Regions from separate parts of the Homo sapiens genome. Here region 2 is linked to region 1. Evidence: fine-mapped expression QTL. Tissue or cell type: whole blood. Region 1 holds a variant in brackets; the other region holds the start of a gene. All regions are shown on one strand. Distances are from middle to middle.

Region 1 (8,183 bases):
GAGACAGTCAGATGTAAGAGATTGTGGTTTTACCAACAAGCACAAGGAAGAAATGAAAGGGCAAACAAGCAAGTGATAAAAATGACCACAGAATTTGAGCTGGGTGGGGCCGGGCGCGGTGGCTTACGCCTGCAATCCCAACACTTCAGGAGGCCGAGGTGGGCGGATCACTTGAGGCCAGGAGTTTGAGATCAACCTGGCCAACATGGTGAAACCCCATTTCTACTAAAAATACAAAAAGTAGGCCAGGTATGGTGGGGGGGCGCCTGTAATCCCAGCTACTTGGGTGGCTGAGGCAGGAGAATTGCTCGAACGGGAGGCAGAGGTTGCAGTGAGCTGAGATCGTGCCACTGCACTCCGGCCTGGGCAACAGAGCGAGACTCCGTCTTAAAAAAAAAAAAAAAAAAAAAGATTGTGATGACACCTTGCGAGGGGCGGCGGGGAGAACAGAACACAGTTTCCCTCCTGGAATGGAGAAAAGGAACAAGAGTTTTTCACCAAAGGCAGATACCTGTGTCGCATGCAACAGAGGGACACCAGCTTCTTTTCTGCACAGAGGTTAAGCATGCAACAGAGGGACACCAGCTTCTTTTCTGCACAGAGGTTAAGTGTGGGAACTTGGCAAACATACCTTTATACCCAGGGGCAGACAGAAAAATCGGGATGTGGGGGGCTGGAGAGCAAAGCATTTCCTAGAGACACCATCCAAAACACAACCAGTGGGTGTAACTTTAGGGCCAGTTCCTGGCAGTCTTGTTTTCGACCGCTAGGGGTTTGGAAACAGGTGGGATACACTTATTATCAGGCTTCCCAGGAGTCCTGAGGCTCACTGACTAGTGGGAAACGTGGAGCTCTCAGGAACGTATCCTCCGGCCGGTGGCTGGCCACTCTGGTCATCTCGTGGCCCACAATCTAGGCATCAAGCGCTCGAGAGGCCTCTGAAAACGTCTCACCAAAAAAGCAGACTAGAAGGGGGCCCCATGATGAATATGACAGGGAGCTAACTGAGGACATCGGGAAACGGGTACTAGAAAAACCCACGCCACTAGCTGGCCTGCCTCTACTTCTGGGCGGGGGGCGGGGGTGTGTGTGTGGGGGGGATTACATGGCAGATAACTGCCTCCGTTTTCCTACGTGGAAGATGGGCATAACATTGAGACCCAGAGGTGAAAGGGGACGTGTTTAGTCCAACCCTTGTATTTACAAAGGAGGAGACTGAGACCAGAGGTGAACTGACTAGCTCGAGCACCCAGCTCATGAATGGCCAAATCAAGACGAACATCCAGATCCCCACCTTAGTGTTCCCTGCACCCACCTGGTTTCTTCCAGAGGCCTTCCCAGGAAGACAGGAGTTGGCTGAAGGGAGTTCCTGCCACAAAATCAGTATCACTTATCAACCTACCGACCTCAGCAGAAGATCCAGAGAAAAGGACAGCTGCTGCCTGCAGACCAAGTTCACCTGGGCGCTTAAAGATGCCCCCCCCCCCCCGCCCAAATGATTGCAGGTGGGTTTTCAAGCTTGAGAATGGTGAGCAATCCTAGGGTGGTGACGAAGATCCACCTGGAAGCCCTGAAGAAGGCAAATGACACTGACGATGAAAAACAAGAATCACCCTTTGTGATGGAGGGTCCCAGCCCGTTACCCAGACTACAGTCCTGCAAGCAAGTCAGGGACCCCGCACCAGGTTGAATACTCTGCTGTTACCGTGTGAAATTCTCAAAAACTTAACAAGGGGCCTGGCATCTTCATTTTGCACTGGGCCCCTCAATCACGTGGCCAGGGCCGCTGCCACCCTGGAAGCCATAGACGGGTGGCCCCGTCTACACGTCTTCGTCCCCCAACCCCTGCAGCCCTAGACTAAGGAGACCTAACGGAAGCCCTGGCATTTGCACCCCCTAGGCCTGTCCTCGGGAGGGGAAGAAGGCTGCGGGAAGGGGCAGGGGAGCGGGTAGAGGTCCACACCCTCGGGCAAAGGGCCCGCTAACCAGCGGCCCGTCCTCCTTGCTCCGGAGGCGAAGCCTTCCACGCCGCCGCAAGCGGCGACGTCCTGACTTCCGACCGGCAAGTGGGCCGGGTGGCCGAGGCTCAGTTTGCCGGTTGGGAAAATGGGAAGGCGCGGGGCCCTCGCGGGCGGAGGAAGCTGCCGGGGGCGCAAAGCCCGAGCAGGGTGCACTTCCGGCCGCCGGGCCGCCCCGCCGGCGCCTCGATTGAGGGAAAGTTTGGGGACAGATGATAGCAGGGAGGTGCTCTCGGCCGGGGTTCCGGCCTCGCCCTGGTCCCAGGGGCCGCGACTGTGGCGGGCAGGGAAGACAAGCCGCCCAAACGCCGGAGCCCGAGACTCGAAGCCGCCGCAAACTCCTCGCCTCGGGGGCGGGGTCACGGTGGAGAGGCGGGGCTCCGGCGGAGGGACCGGAACTGCTGTGAGTCTATGAATAAAGTCCCAACAATATTCTTCCTCGTAGAGGTTCCATAGTGTAGTGGTTATCACGTCTGCTTTACACGCAGAAGGTCCTGGGTTCGAGCCCCAGTGGAACCATAGCCGTAAGGCGGCTGTTTTTGCTTTTATAGGGTTTCGTTGTTTGGGTTAAAAAAAAAAAAGGGTTTGGGTTAAACAAACAAAAAAAACCAAAAAGCGACAACGAAGTGTTTTTCTTTGTCCTTTTTTTCTTTTTAATTTTTTGGCATGTTTTTCTCGCAGAAGTGAAATGACAGATACCCTCTCCTATCCCACAAGGTCACTGCCGCCATAGTCCGACATGAGAAGTAGTGGAGGGCAGGGGCCGGGCGAAGTCCTAGACCCGATCCGGCGCCCCCGATCCGGCCGGGCCCTACCCCACCTCTCCTCCCAGTACGCCTCGGAAAATCGGGCGCTCGGGGAATGCACCTGGCTGCCCTTTGCCTGCAAGCCAGCAAGGGCCGGCCACCCAACCTCCAACTAAAATGTGGCAGGCAATACAGCAGCGCTTTGACTGCAGGTGAATTATTAAAGGTCGGTCATGATTATGACTCTGATTAAAAGTTCTATTTTTCATTAAACTCTGATGTGCAGAGCACGAAAAAAAAAAAACCCCACAGTCCCTTTTAATGCAGCAGTAGAATTTGTGGAATAGAGTTCATACACAGTATAAAATAAATGTCAGGCTTGTAGACATTCAATAAATACTGGTTGAATGAGCAAACGTTTCTCTAGTTTCTTTCTGTTCCTCTTTACTATTTCATTACAGTTTCCTTTGGGGAGTTTATTATTTGTTTAAATATTGGCTTTTTTATCTTTGACAAGAGGAATGAGGGTGTGGGCCATGGTGAGATGGTGGTAGCAAAAAATATAAAATGGGAAGGGGCACTCAGTATTTTTCTCTGCATTTTCAACCTAGTTATGCATCCTTAACAGTGTAGAAATTTGCGTCTTTTTCTAACTTGAGTGTAACTCTTTCCCTGTTATTACAATCACTTCATCAACTTTATTCTTTTTTTTTTTTTTGGAGGCGGAGTCTCACTCTGTCGCCCAGGCTGGAGTGCAGTGTCGTGATCTCAGCTCACTGCAACCTCTGCCTCCCGGGTTCACACCATTCTCCTGCCTCAGCCTCCCGAGTAGCTGGGACTACAGGCGCCTGCCACCTCGCCCGGCTAATTTTTTGTATTTTTAGTTGAGACGGGGTTTCACCGTGTTAGCCAGGATGGTCTCGATCTCCTGACCTCGTGATCCGCCCGCCTCGGCCTCCCAAAGTGCTAGGATTACAGGCTTGAGCCACCGTGCCCGGCCTTTTTTAAAACCACCTTAACCATTTTTTTTTTTTTTTGAGACAGAGTCTGGCTCTGTCACCCAGGCTGGAGTGCAGTGGTACAATCTCGGCTCACTGAAACCTCGGCCTCCTGGGTTCAAGCGATTCTCCTGCCTCAGCCTCCCGAGTAGCTGAGATTATAGGTGCACGCCACCACGCCCGACTAATTTTTGTATTTTTGGTAGAGACGAGGTTTCGCCATGTTGCCCAGGCTGGTCTCGAACTCCTGACCTCAAGTGATCTGCCTGCCTTGGCCTCCCAAAGTGCTGGGATTACAGGTGTGAGCCACCACCTCCAGCCCACCATAATCATTTTTAAGTGTACAGTTCAGTAGTGTTAAGTATATTCACATTGTTGTGAAACAGATCTCGGGAACTTTTTCATCTTGCAAAACTCAACTCTATACCTATTAAACAACTCCCCTTTTCCTCCCATCAACTTTATTCTGAATGGTGATGTAAAAATAATAGCTAATTATGTCTAGCACTGTGCTAAGTATTTTATACATATGATCTCTTGTAAGCCTCAAAATAACTCTCGAAAGTAGGCATTATTATCATCATCTTACAGATGAGAAAGTTTAGGCGCAGAGATATTAATAACTTGCCCTGAGGTCACAATGTAACAAGTGCTAGTGCTGCGATTTGGCACCCAGTCTGGGTTGGCAGTCTGTGCTCTTAAACCTACCAGGCTGCACTCATCTCTTGATTTACTTAACCAGCCCCCTAACCTTGGCCATTTAGATTGTTTCCAATTTGTTGTTGTTAAAAGTAACACAGCAATGCACAGCTTTGTGTTAACTGTCCTCCCACCACCACCAAATTTAGCATTTTCCTGAGTGAATAGGTGTGCACATGATGCCTAGTTGCTTTCAAAGAGGGGAATCCATGACATTTTCATACAATTCGAGAATGTTAGTGCTTATGTGGCAGGAAATTGTTCAAGGTCACCCCCTAAAAAATGATGGCGAAGAAAGGACGAAAACCTGAGACTTC[T/C]GGTTGTAGTTCTCTCCCTCCATTGCTTCCCTTACATTAAGATAGAATGAACAGTATGGGCCGGGCGCAGTGGCTGACGCCTGTAATCCCAGCACTTTGGGAGGCCGAGGTGGGTGGATCACCTGAGGTCAGGAGTCCGAGACCAGCCTGACTGACATGACGAAACCCCATCTCTACTAAAAATACAAAAATTAGCTGGGCGTGGTGGCGTGAGCCTATAATCCCAGCTACTCGGAAGGCTGAGGCAGGAGACTAGATTGAACCCGGGAGGCAGAGGTTGCAGTGAGCCGAGATGGCGCCATTGCACTCCAGCCTGGGTGACAAGAGCGAAACTCCATCTCAAAAAAAAAAAAAAAAAAAAAAAAAAGAACGAAAAGTATCTTCCTCGCGAACTGAATCTCAGTTGATGCTAGTATCTTCCATGAGACTTCCTTGTTGAGGCAGGTAACTCTGTGGGTTAACTTGATGGGGCTCAGCCAAAGACCTAAGAACTAAATGGATTAAGATGCTTAATGAGGCCAGGGCTCAACTTAATCCCCTGCTCCTGGGCCAGCTCTCCAGTTCAGTAAGGTAGAGCTTTGGCCGAGGACGAGGGGAAGATGTCACGCAAGATAGAAGGCTTTTTGTTATTACTTCTCTTTGGCTATGAAGGTATGTGCTATTCAACCATTGACATTCATTGCATACTTAATACATAATTTAATTAATATCGTTGATAAATAGGAATATAGCCTGAATAATATAAATATTATTAATTAGCAACACGTTAATTAACTAACATGTGTTATTAATGAACAACAGTTGTCTTTGTGTGGATGGCTTTCCAGTTCTGTGAGGAGCCTTCTAAAGTTCAAAGGATGCTTAAAATCCAACAGAAAACAGGATGGGTCTCAGAAATCTATAAAATAGCCATAAGTTGCAACAATTAATGAGAAAGTATGGCATATTCTGGAAAACTTTTAGGAGTCAAAGTGGGAGTGATTGTAGAATTTAATATTCCAAACCGGAATGCTATTGACGGTGGAGGACGATGCTATTAATAATTCTGTTGGGACGACAGGTGTAACCCAGGACCATCCAGGGCAAATTGGGGTGTAAGGTCAACCTAGTTTAAATATGGATTAACGTAACATACCCAGTACCACTGGAATCTAATAAAAAACATAATCCAACTGAGAGTCAGGAAACCTCGGAGACTCAGTACACTCACTCATTTTAAAATTTCTAAATATGACCCTAGCAGAAGTGATATGCTTCAATTAGGAAAAAATAAGGGCAAATCTGTAAAATGTCATCCAGTTCCAATTCCCTCTCAATCTTTGAAATAATATTCTTTCATGCCTCTCTCAATTCTCAAGTACCCATCTGCTCAGAATTTCTCCTCAGGTTCATCCAGATGTTAGAAATTGGTTGCCTGTCTTCTTTGTGGACATCGTGTATTTGTGTGTTATAGAAAATAAATTAAAAAGCAGGGAGAAGGAGGTCTCTGTGCTCTGCAAATGACCTGGTAGACAGACACAGCGAAACTCACACAAGTAGAATCAGAATTCTTGGTTTCACGGCTCACTGTAGCCTCAACCTCCCAGGCTCAAGCCATCCTCCTGCCTCAGCCTCCCTAGTAGCTGGGACTACAGGCACGCACCACCACATCCGGCTAATTTATTGTATTTCTTGTAGAGAGGGGTTTTCACCATGTTTCCCAGGCTGATGACTTTTGTTACTTAGTCACATTTCTCAGTATTTGGAAAGACTGGTGACAATATAATTCCAAGGTCATTCTGCAAACCCCAAGGTATATTTCTAAGTAGGGATCATGTAAACCAGTTGTCTGTTAGGATTTTTTCCCCTTGCAATTAATAGTCTGCAACTTGTCCCAGTAACTCTGACTACTTTAAGATGCTTTGGGGTTTTGTTGTTTTTCCTTTTACTCCTTGCCCCCTCCTCTTTCCTCAGCAAGAAAATCTAAGCAGACTCTTTCAAGGCTTAGATCTAAATACTCCTGGTTGTCAGACACTCCCAGGGCTCACTCTCGGATTTCTCTTCTTTGTGATTGGCATGGAGATTCATTCATTCATTCCTTGGTCCCTTCTTTTAAGAGCTCATCCCTGACTATCTGCTAGGGGGCAAACATTGTGTATGACGGCGGGGCGCGGTGGCTCATGACTGTAATCCCAGCACTTTGGGAGGCTGAGGCGGGTCTATCACCTGAGGTCAGGAGTTTGAGACCAGCCTGCCCAACCTGGTGAAACCCCGTCTCTACAAAAATACAAAAAGTATCTGGGCATGATGGCAGGTGCCTCTAATCCCAGCTACTCGGGGGAGGCTGAAGCGGGAGAATCGTCTGATTGCTGGAGAGGGAGGTTGCAGTGAGCTGAGATCATGCCATTGCACTCCAGCCTGGGTGACTGAGCGAGACTCAGTCTCAAAAAAAAAAAAAAAAAAAAGGACTTGACATGCAGGGCATCCTTGTTTCTTCCACAGTGCTGAGTCTAACAACCCTGTTCTGTGACCTCCCCACCCCCGCGATGCGAAGAAGTCCTAGAAATGTTTACCAAAGCATTTTAAAATTAGACCTGCCCAGTTAGTGGATATCAGCAATAAAAGACAGGCTGTCAGGAGGCATGAAGGATAGCACTCTTTCGTGTTCTAAAGTTTACCAATCTTTGTGCATGGCTGGGGAGCTCCAGAAATGTCCACGAAGAGCAGAGAACATCGTCTCTCCAGGTGCCCTGCAACGTGGGCCAGTGGGAAGGTTTGGGGAGCTTAAATTATCTTACTTGCTTAACGCAGGCCTTTAACAGCACTTGAAAGGAAAGCAGCCAGCCAAAAATAGCCAGTGTGGCTTGGCAACCTACTGTGTGCCCTACCCTGGGCCAGAGGGATGCTCCAGGGGACAGAGGACACAATCACTGAACTTAATCAGCATATTATCCAGATGGAGATGCATAAGGCCCATAGACATGGGAAAGATGCATCCCATTGTACAGCTGGGAACCTGAAGACAAAGGCTGTTTGTCCAATTTACCCTCCACTGCTTCTGTCCTTCAGTGGCAGTGTCTCCTCATTACAGTGAAATAAGGTAAAGAAATTGCCTTCACTTAGGCGTTGGATGAAGGTTCATTTCGGAGAGCACACAGCCTCACAGTAAGGCATTTCCTATGTCTTTTTTTTTTTTTTTTTGAGAATTTCACTCTTGTTGCCCAGGCTGGAGTGCAGTGGCGTGATCTCGGCTCACCACAACCTCCATCTCCCGGGTTCAAGCGATTCTCCTGCCTCAGGCTCCCGAGTGGCTGGGATTACAGACGTGTGCCACCACGCCCGGATCATTTTTGTAATTTTAGTAGAGACGGGGTTTCTCCATGTTGGCCAGGCTGGTCTCGAACTCCCGACCTCAGGTGATCTGCC
Region 2 (8,183 bases), 34 kb before region 1:
CCTCACACCATACGTGAAAATCAGCAACTCAAAATGGTTCAAATGCCTAAAAGTAAGAGCTAAAAGTACAAAACTTTTTTTGGCCTTTAAAAACATATATATTTAGGGGGTATAAGTGTAATTTTGTTACATGTATAATGAAGTCTGGGCTTTTAGCGTAACCATTACCCAAGTAGCATACATTGTACTCATTAGGTAATTTCTCATACCTCACCCCCCTCCCACCCTCCCAGCTTTCTGAGTCTCCAGTGTCTATTATTGTATTCTGGATGCCCATATGTATACATTATTTAGCTCCCACTTTTAAGTGAGAACATGGGGTATTTGACTTTCTGTTTTTTGAGTAATTTCACTTAGGATAATGGCTTCTTGTTCCATCCATGTTGCTGCAAAAGACATGATTTCATTCTTTTTTATGGCTGAGTAGTATTCCATGGCATGCATATATATATATATACACACACACACACATATATATACATATATATATGCACACACATACATACATATATACGTATATATACACACACATACACACACACACATATATACACACACACACACTTACATATACATACACCACACATTTTCTTTACCCAATCATCCATTGAAAAACACTTACGGTGATTCCATATCTTTGCTATTGTAAATAGTGCTGCGGTAAACATAAGAGTGTAGATATCTATTTGATATAATGACTTCCTTTGGGTAGACTCCGTGGTGGGATTGCTGGATGAAATGGTAGTTTGGTAGCTCTATTTTTAGTTCTTTGAGAAATCTCCATAATGTTTTCCACAGAGGTTGTACTAATTTACATTCCCACCAGCAGTGATAAACATTCCCTTTTCCCTACATCCTTGCCTACATCTCTTATTTTTTGACTTTTTAGTAATAGCCATTCTGACCGGTATGTAAGGTGGTATCTCATTATGGTTTCAATTTGCATTTACCTGATGATTAGTGATGTTGAGCATTTTTTTCGTGTGTTTGTTAGCCATTTGTATGCCTTCTTTTGAAAAAATGTCTGTTCATGACCTTTGCCCACTTTTTAATGGAGTTATCTTTTTTTTCTTGTTGAGTTGTTACAAAACTCTTAAAGTAAGACGTGAGCAAAAATCTTTTTGGACTCGGGAATGGATTCTTAGATATGACACCAAAATCACAAGCAACCAAAGAAAAAATAAAGTGAACTTCATCAAAAGTAAAAACTTTTGTGCTTCAAAGAACACCATTAAGAAAGGATGAAGAGAATTCAACAAATGAGAGAAAATATTTGCAAGTCACATATTTGATAGGAAACTTGTATCTAGAATATATAAATTTATCTTACAACAATATAAAAATAAATAATTCAATTAAAAATGGGTAAATGATCTGAATAGACATTTCTCCAAAGCAGATATACAAATAGCCAATAAACACATGAAAAGATGCTCAATGTCATTAGTCACTACTGAAATACAAATGAAAACCATGGTGTGATACCACTTCATACCCACTAGGATGACTAAAATCAAAAGGACAGACAATAACAACTATCGCTGAAAATGTGGAGAAATTGAAACCTTTATACACTGCTGGTAGGAATGTAGAATGGTGCAGTCACTTGGGAAAACAGCTTGGAAATTTCTCAAAATGTTAAACATAAAGCTACCGTATGACCCAGCAATTCCACTTCTAGGTATATACCCAAGAGAACGGAAAACATATGTTCACAGCAGCATTGTTCATAACAGTCAAAAAGCTGAAACAGGTCGGGCACAGTGGCTCACGCCTGTAATCCTAGCGCTTTGGGAGGCCGAGGCGGGCAGATCACCTGAGGTCAGGAGTTCGAGACCAGCCTGGCCAACATGGTGAAACCCTGTCTCTACCAAAAATACAAAAATTAGCTAGGTGTGGTGGTGTGTGCCTGTAATCCCAGCTACTCCAGAGGCTGAGGCAGGAGAATCGCTTGAACCTGGGAGGCGGAGGTTGCAGCGAGCCGAGATCGCCCCACTGCACTCCAGCCTGGGTGACAGAGCAAGACTGTCTCAAAAAAAACAAAAAACAAAAAACAAAGCTGAAACAATCCAAATGTCTATCAATTGATGAATGGATAAATACAATGTGGCATATTCATACAATGAAATATTATTCCACAATAAAAAGGAATATAGTACTGATACATGCTACAACATGGACAAAGCCAGACACAAAAGGTCACATAATATATGACTCCATTTACATGAAATGTCCAGAATAGATAAATCCATAGAGACTGAATATAGATTTGTGGTTGCCAGGGGCTGAGAGGAGAAAGTGCTTAATGGATAAGGGGTTTTACTTTGGAGTGTTGGAAATGTCTCAGAAGTACATAGGGGTTGTGGTTGCACGACACTGTGAACATACCAACTGCTGCTGAGTTGTTCACTTGACAATGGCTAATTTTATGTTACGTGAATTTCACCTCAATAAATCACAGGTATTTGAAAGAAAAAGCAATCCAAAAATCTAAGCTAATATTTCCACTTACATGCAATGTTTTAAAAGTTGAAAAGTATTTCAAAAAGAGAGAGGATTTGTTTTTACAAGTTGGACTTGGCTTTTTTTTTTTTAACCTAGGAAATTTGGCTAAATTTAAAGAACTGTGAGTAATCCTAGATATAAAAAGATAATTTCTCTTTACTCTCTGCTAATAAACGTCTACTACAGCAGTAGAGTTCAGATGGAGCTTTTGAAAGATTTATTTCATGACATGCTTAAAGATTTGAAAGAGTCAGTACACCTCCTATGTCCCTTCCTACTTTCAGAGATGAGTTTCCTACATCATCAGCACAAGTCAGCTGGGTAGGAGAATAACATTTGATTCCCAAAGTAAAACATCCCACGCTAATTAGTATAGCACACTCTGCATCCTAAACCCTCCACCTTAAGCCTGAATAAACTTCCAAAGGCAAGACGTGGAATAGAAGTTGGGGGAATTACCTATAACCTAGACATCAAAGAAGTGGAGTTTAAGAGCAAATTACTCATATTAATTGTCCCAGCTTATTTACTTGTTTTTATTTTAATTTGCTTGTTGGAAACTCTATCCCTTAAATGCTCAAGTTTGTTTCAACTAGATGCCAATAGCCATGAGAAAGAACCTCAGTACAAAATAAACAAAGTGAATATTTAAGCTTCTAATTATATGGGGGTACAGAAAGGCATGCCATCTATTTAGAAACAATACACCTTTTTTTTGGAAACAGATGATCTAGCATTCTCCCAATTCTCCTAGATTATTTTTAAAACGTGATGCAAATCTCATGAAGTTCTGTGTTGAATAGATATAGAAATAATGTGATCATTGAGTTATAAAATCCAATAAAAATTCAATGATGCTACTAAATGTCACAAAAGTAGGGATATAGCTATTTATAAAAGTATTGAAGAAACACATATAAATTACACTGCCTTTCTTGTTCCCTGCCACTGAGTTTTAAATTGAGATTTTATATTGGTACATTATCGAATGAAATTAAATCAAACACAAAATATCTCTAAGACAATACTTTATGGTACTTCATAAATTCAAAGCTACATCTTCCTAAATGTAGTTTCCTATGCTACTCTAACGATGCCTTGTGCAAATCACACAGGGCAGCTTGAGCATCGTGGGAGTAAATGAGAAAGGAGAAGAGGGTGAGGGCAGCTCATTTTCCCCTTTTCATTCATAACCACAGGCACATTCCCAGTACTCACATGTGTCAGATCTCCTGGTTTTCGTTGAAGAACTGCTGCATCCCATGACTTCTATCTAAATCATATGTGTTCATGAATTCAACTTCTGATTTTAAGACAGAGTGTGAAAAGTGCCTCCCTTTAAGCTGCGAGGAACCACTCTTAGCCGATCCTCTTCAGTCATAGATTCTAATGAGGAATACACAGGAGGGAGGGAAGGAAACCGCCAGTTAACCACATGGTAGCTGAGGGGCTGCTCAGCAGGATTCATTTTACGCTTCTTCTGAATCGCTGTTCATCATGTGATGTGGAAAGTGATCAGACATAATCTAATCCTGGCTTATTTTCCAAAACACAGCAGCAGCTACAGAGCAGCTATAGGCTGCTTCTCTGCTAGACATAAATGAGTTTCTCCATGTCTAGGTCACATCCAGCTCTGTATAAAATAGAGCATTCAAAATGAAAAGAAAAATCGAAATATGAGAGTGTACGATTTTCTAATTTAAATATGGGGAATGGGATGTGGAGGAGCTGACATAATTAACTGTTTTGGTTTTCAGCTCAAAGTAATTCAACCTATCTAGGCTTTTAAAAACACAAATTGGAAGTTGACTATGAGACAAAAACAACATATTTAACAGCTATGCTGAAATTCAAAGTGAGTTCTTTGACAGTATTTCGCGGAATAAGTTGGGAACATTTGTTTTAAAAAAAAGGAGGCAGCCGGTCGCAGTGGCTCACGCCTGCAATCCCAGCACTTTGGGAGGCCGAGGCGGGCGGATTACGAGGTCAGGAGTTCGAGACCAGCCTGGCCAACATGGTGAAACCCCGTCTCTACTAAAAGTACAAAAATTAGCCAAGCATGGTGGCACATGTCTGTAATCCCAGCTACTCAGGAGGCTGAGGCAGCAGAATCGCTTGAACCCAGGAGGCGGAGGTTGCAGTGAGCTGAGATCGCACCACTGTACTCTAGCCTGGGCGACAAAGCGAGACTCCATCTCAAAAAAAAAAAAAAAAAAAAAAAAAAAAGGAGGTTTGAAACCTCCCCCCAAATTTAGGAATTGTAATCTGTGAGAGTGTCCTTTTATTTATTTTATTTTTTGAGACGGAGTCTCGCTCTATTACCCAGGCTGGAGTGCAGTGGTGTGATCACAGCTCACTGCAGCCTCAACCTCCCAGGCTCAGGTGATCCTCCCGCCTCAGCCTCCCTAGTAGCTGGGACTACAGGCATGCGCCACCACACCTGGCTAATTTTTTGTATTTTTAGTAGAGACGGGGTTTTGCTGTGTTGGCCAGGATGGTCTCGAACTCCTGACCTCAGGTGATCCACCTGCCTCGGCCTCCCAAAGTGCTGGGATGACAGGCGTGAGCCACCGTGCCTGGCCAAGAGTGCCCTTTTAAACAAGCTCTCTGGGCACTGCTGAGGCCCCTCTGGAGTCTAACTTTGTGTTCTATAGTCCTTCTCATGAGCTCCCTGACTCCCATAATCACTTCACGGGAGTTTTCAACAAAATTCCTTTCCATAGTATACTGTCACGTCACTTTTTAGGGTGATGTTTCCTTTATTTTGTGATGCTCCAAACCAACCTGATCTAATATATTTGCATTCCTTTTTTTTTTTTTTTTTTTTCAGACAGGGTCTCACTCTGTCACCCAGGATGGAGTGTAGTGGCACAATCACGGCTCGCTGCAGCCTTAACCTCCCAAGCATGTGCCGTGACACCCGGCTAATTTTATTTTTTTGTAGAGACAGGGTCTCCCTATGTTGCCGAGGCTGGTCTCAAACTCCTGGGCTCAAGTGATCCTCCGACCTTGTCCTCCCAAAGTGCTGGGATCACAGGTGTGAGCCATCTTGCCCAGCCCTATTTGCATTTCTTGACAGGCACAAAGTCAGCAAACAACTGACATATCTATCTTTCCATTGGTACTACACCAAAAGCTTCAAAATTTCAACTCGACTGAAGAAAGGGAAAACTAAAATAAGCAAAATATTTGAACTATGGCCATGTTTTGAAAATAACAATAAGCTTAGTAAACAGATTTTCTGACCAGAGGTGAACCTGATTATTTTATGTATTGAATGAATTAGCCTTCCTAAACTTTGGGTTACTTCCAAATTTTTATTTATTTTTTGAGACAAGGTCTCGCTCTGTCACCCAGGCTGGAGTGCAGTGGCGCAACCATGACTCACTGCAGCCTCCACCTCCCGGGCTCAAGTGATTCTCCTACCTCAGCCTCCTGAGCAGCTGGAACTACAGGCATGCGCCACCATGCCCAGCTAATTTTTGTACTTTTTTGTAGACATGGGGTCTCACCATGTTGCCCAAGTTGGTCTCAAACTCCTGGCCTCAAGCAACGTGCCCACCTCAGCCTCCCAAAGTGCTGGGATGACAGGCATCAGCCACCGTGCTTGGCTTTATTTCCAAATTCGATAGGCATTTCTTTCGTGTCTTCCTTATCTACATCATGGCTAAAGAACATTAACAAGATCAGATCCAAGGGCAGGATGAGCCCTGTGGCATCCCACTCCAAACCATCCTCCAGGTTCACCACAGATCCGTTACCTTCATACTCGCTGAGCACATTTGTTCAGTTAGCTGGTAAACTCACCTATCATAACTCTCATTTATCTGTGAGACATCCTGGAGAATTTTACTAAATATTTTAATAAAATGATGATATGTATATATTTTGATACTTTGACATTCCAGCTTATTCCAGCAAAAGAAGAGAGAGGGAAGGAGGAGGAGAAAAGGAAGGAAGGGCAGGGGAGGAAGAAAGGAAGGAAATCAATTTGGCAACATTTTTAATACAAAATCATAGAAGTTTAAAGGTGAGAGAGACCTTTAAAATTACCTAGTATTTACACAAAGTGCAAGGAAGTTAAGCAACTTGTCCCATGTCATATAGACCTGTGCTTGTCATACTTCGTTGCATATGAGTGTCACCTGGGGAGCTTTTCAAACTCCCAGTACTCAGCCTGCACCTCATTAAGTCAGAATCTCTTGGGGTTTAAAAAATACTGATGCCCAAGTCCCACCCCCAGATAATTTGACATAATTGGTACTGGGTGGAGGATGAGGCATCAAGATTTTTTTCAGTTTTCCAGATTCTAATACACAACAAAGTTTGACAATCTGTAATAGAGACGGTATTTTAGAAAACCCACGGTGCTGCATAGTGATGATCACATTTTCCTAGAAATGCTTTGGCTCCATCTATTTCAAGCTGAATTTTTCCAGAGGTCATATCAAGTCTGTGGCTTCTAGCATATATTCTTTTCTCATTTTTGAAATTGGGGCACTGTTCATCTAGGAATTCATCTAGTCCTGGTGACATTCTCCAGGTGCCTAGATCAGTGCTCTCCAACTCGAGTGCTCACAAGACTTATTGGGGGTGGGGGGATGCAGATTCCCAGGCTTTACTAACAATACTCAGATTCAAAAGTCCAGTGCCTTGGAATACACATTTAAAGTGCACCATGCCGAGAACTTTGATGCAAGGAATCCCCATATCTCAGTTGAAGAAACACTATTTTCCAACAGTATCCAAATCTCGCTTGGGCTTCGCTCCATCCTCATGCTATTTTTTCCACCCCTTTTTATGAAGACATAAGAATTGGGGCTGGGCACAGTGGCTCTCATTCGTAATCCTAGCACTTTGGGAGGCTGAGGCAGATGGATCCTTTGAGCCCAGGAGTTCGAGACCAGCCTGGGCAACATAGGGAGACCCCATCTCTACCAAAAAATACAAAAAATTAGCCAGGCATGGTGGTGCACATCTGTAGTCCCAGCTCCTCAGGAGGCTGAGGTGGGAGGATCACCTGAGCCTGGGAGGTCAAGGATGCAGCGAGCCGTGATCACACCACTGCACTCCAGCCTGGGTGACAGAGTGAAATCCTGACTTTAAAAAAAAAAAAAAAAAAAGGTATGTTTTTTAATTTAAAAAAGAAAACAGGGGAAAAAAAGAATTGAGCATTTAGTAGGCCATAAACACTGATTGGACTGATTGACATATTTCAATTTCGATTTTCTTTTTCCAGAAAAAAAAAAGCACTGTCTCAATATCTCTCCAGAGGCATTTGGTTTTCAGTCACCCCTCAGTTAATCCACAACAAACACAACTGCATATAAAAGATTCAGTAAGAACTAAAAAGCATCAAACTTGAGTATATTTCTGTTAGACTATTAGCCCCACGGGCAACTTCCAAAGTAGCCCTTGAATCTCTGGCACCTACATGGTGCCTTTCACATTGCAGATGTTGGATAATGCTAAATGAATGAATGAATGAACAAAGGAATCAATATTCCTAGGCCAGAGTTCTTTAAAAATTTAGTTGCTAAAAGTCATTATTAATCCATCATTTTGTGCACAGGTAGGTGCTATTCAATTATACAAAAGCATTTTATTAAATCAGAAAGGGGTAGTACTTATACATAATTTTTAAAGAAAGTTTTAAAATCATGATGGAAAGACATGAT

The links. PIP is the estimated chance that this variant, and not a neighbour inherited with it, causes the effect.
Region 2: it holds the start of PPEF1, and the variant in region 1 is fine-mapped to the expression of PPEF1 in whole blood (TOPMed, PIP above 0.99).

What each region holds. Positions count from the first base shown.
Region 1 is chrX:18,669,263-18,677,445 of GRCh38, reverse strand. It overlaps RS1 (retinoschisin 1), which reads left to right and starts at 5,338. Exons shown (of 6, transcript NM_000330.4): 1 at 5,338-5,429. The coding sequence starts at 5,378. TRV-TAC1-2 (tRNA-Val (anticodon TAC) 1-2) reads left to right here and starts at 2,465; the gene lies at 2,465-2,537. It also overlaps a transcript of PPEF1 not described here. RefSeq lists a silencer at 2,354-2,540. The variant T/C (reference allele first, on the strand shown) is at 4,779.
Region 2 is chrX:18,703,367-18,711,549 of GRCh38, reverse strand. It overlaps PPEF1 (protein phosphatase with EF-hand domain 1), which reads right to left and starts at 3,905. Exons shown (of 16, transcript NM_001377996.1): 1 at 3,724-3,905. The coding sequence starts at 3,769.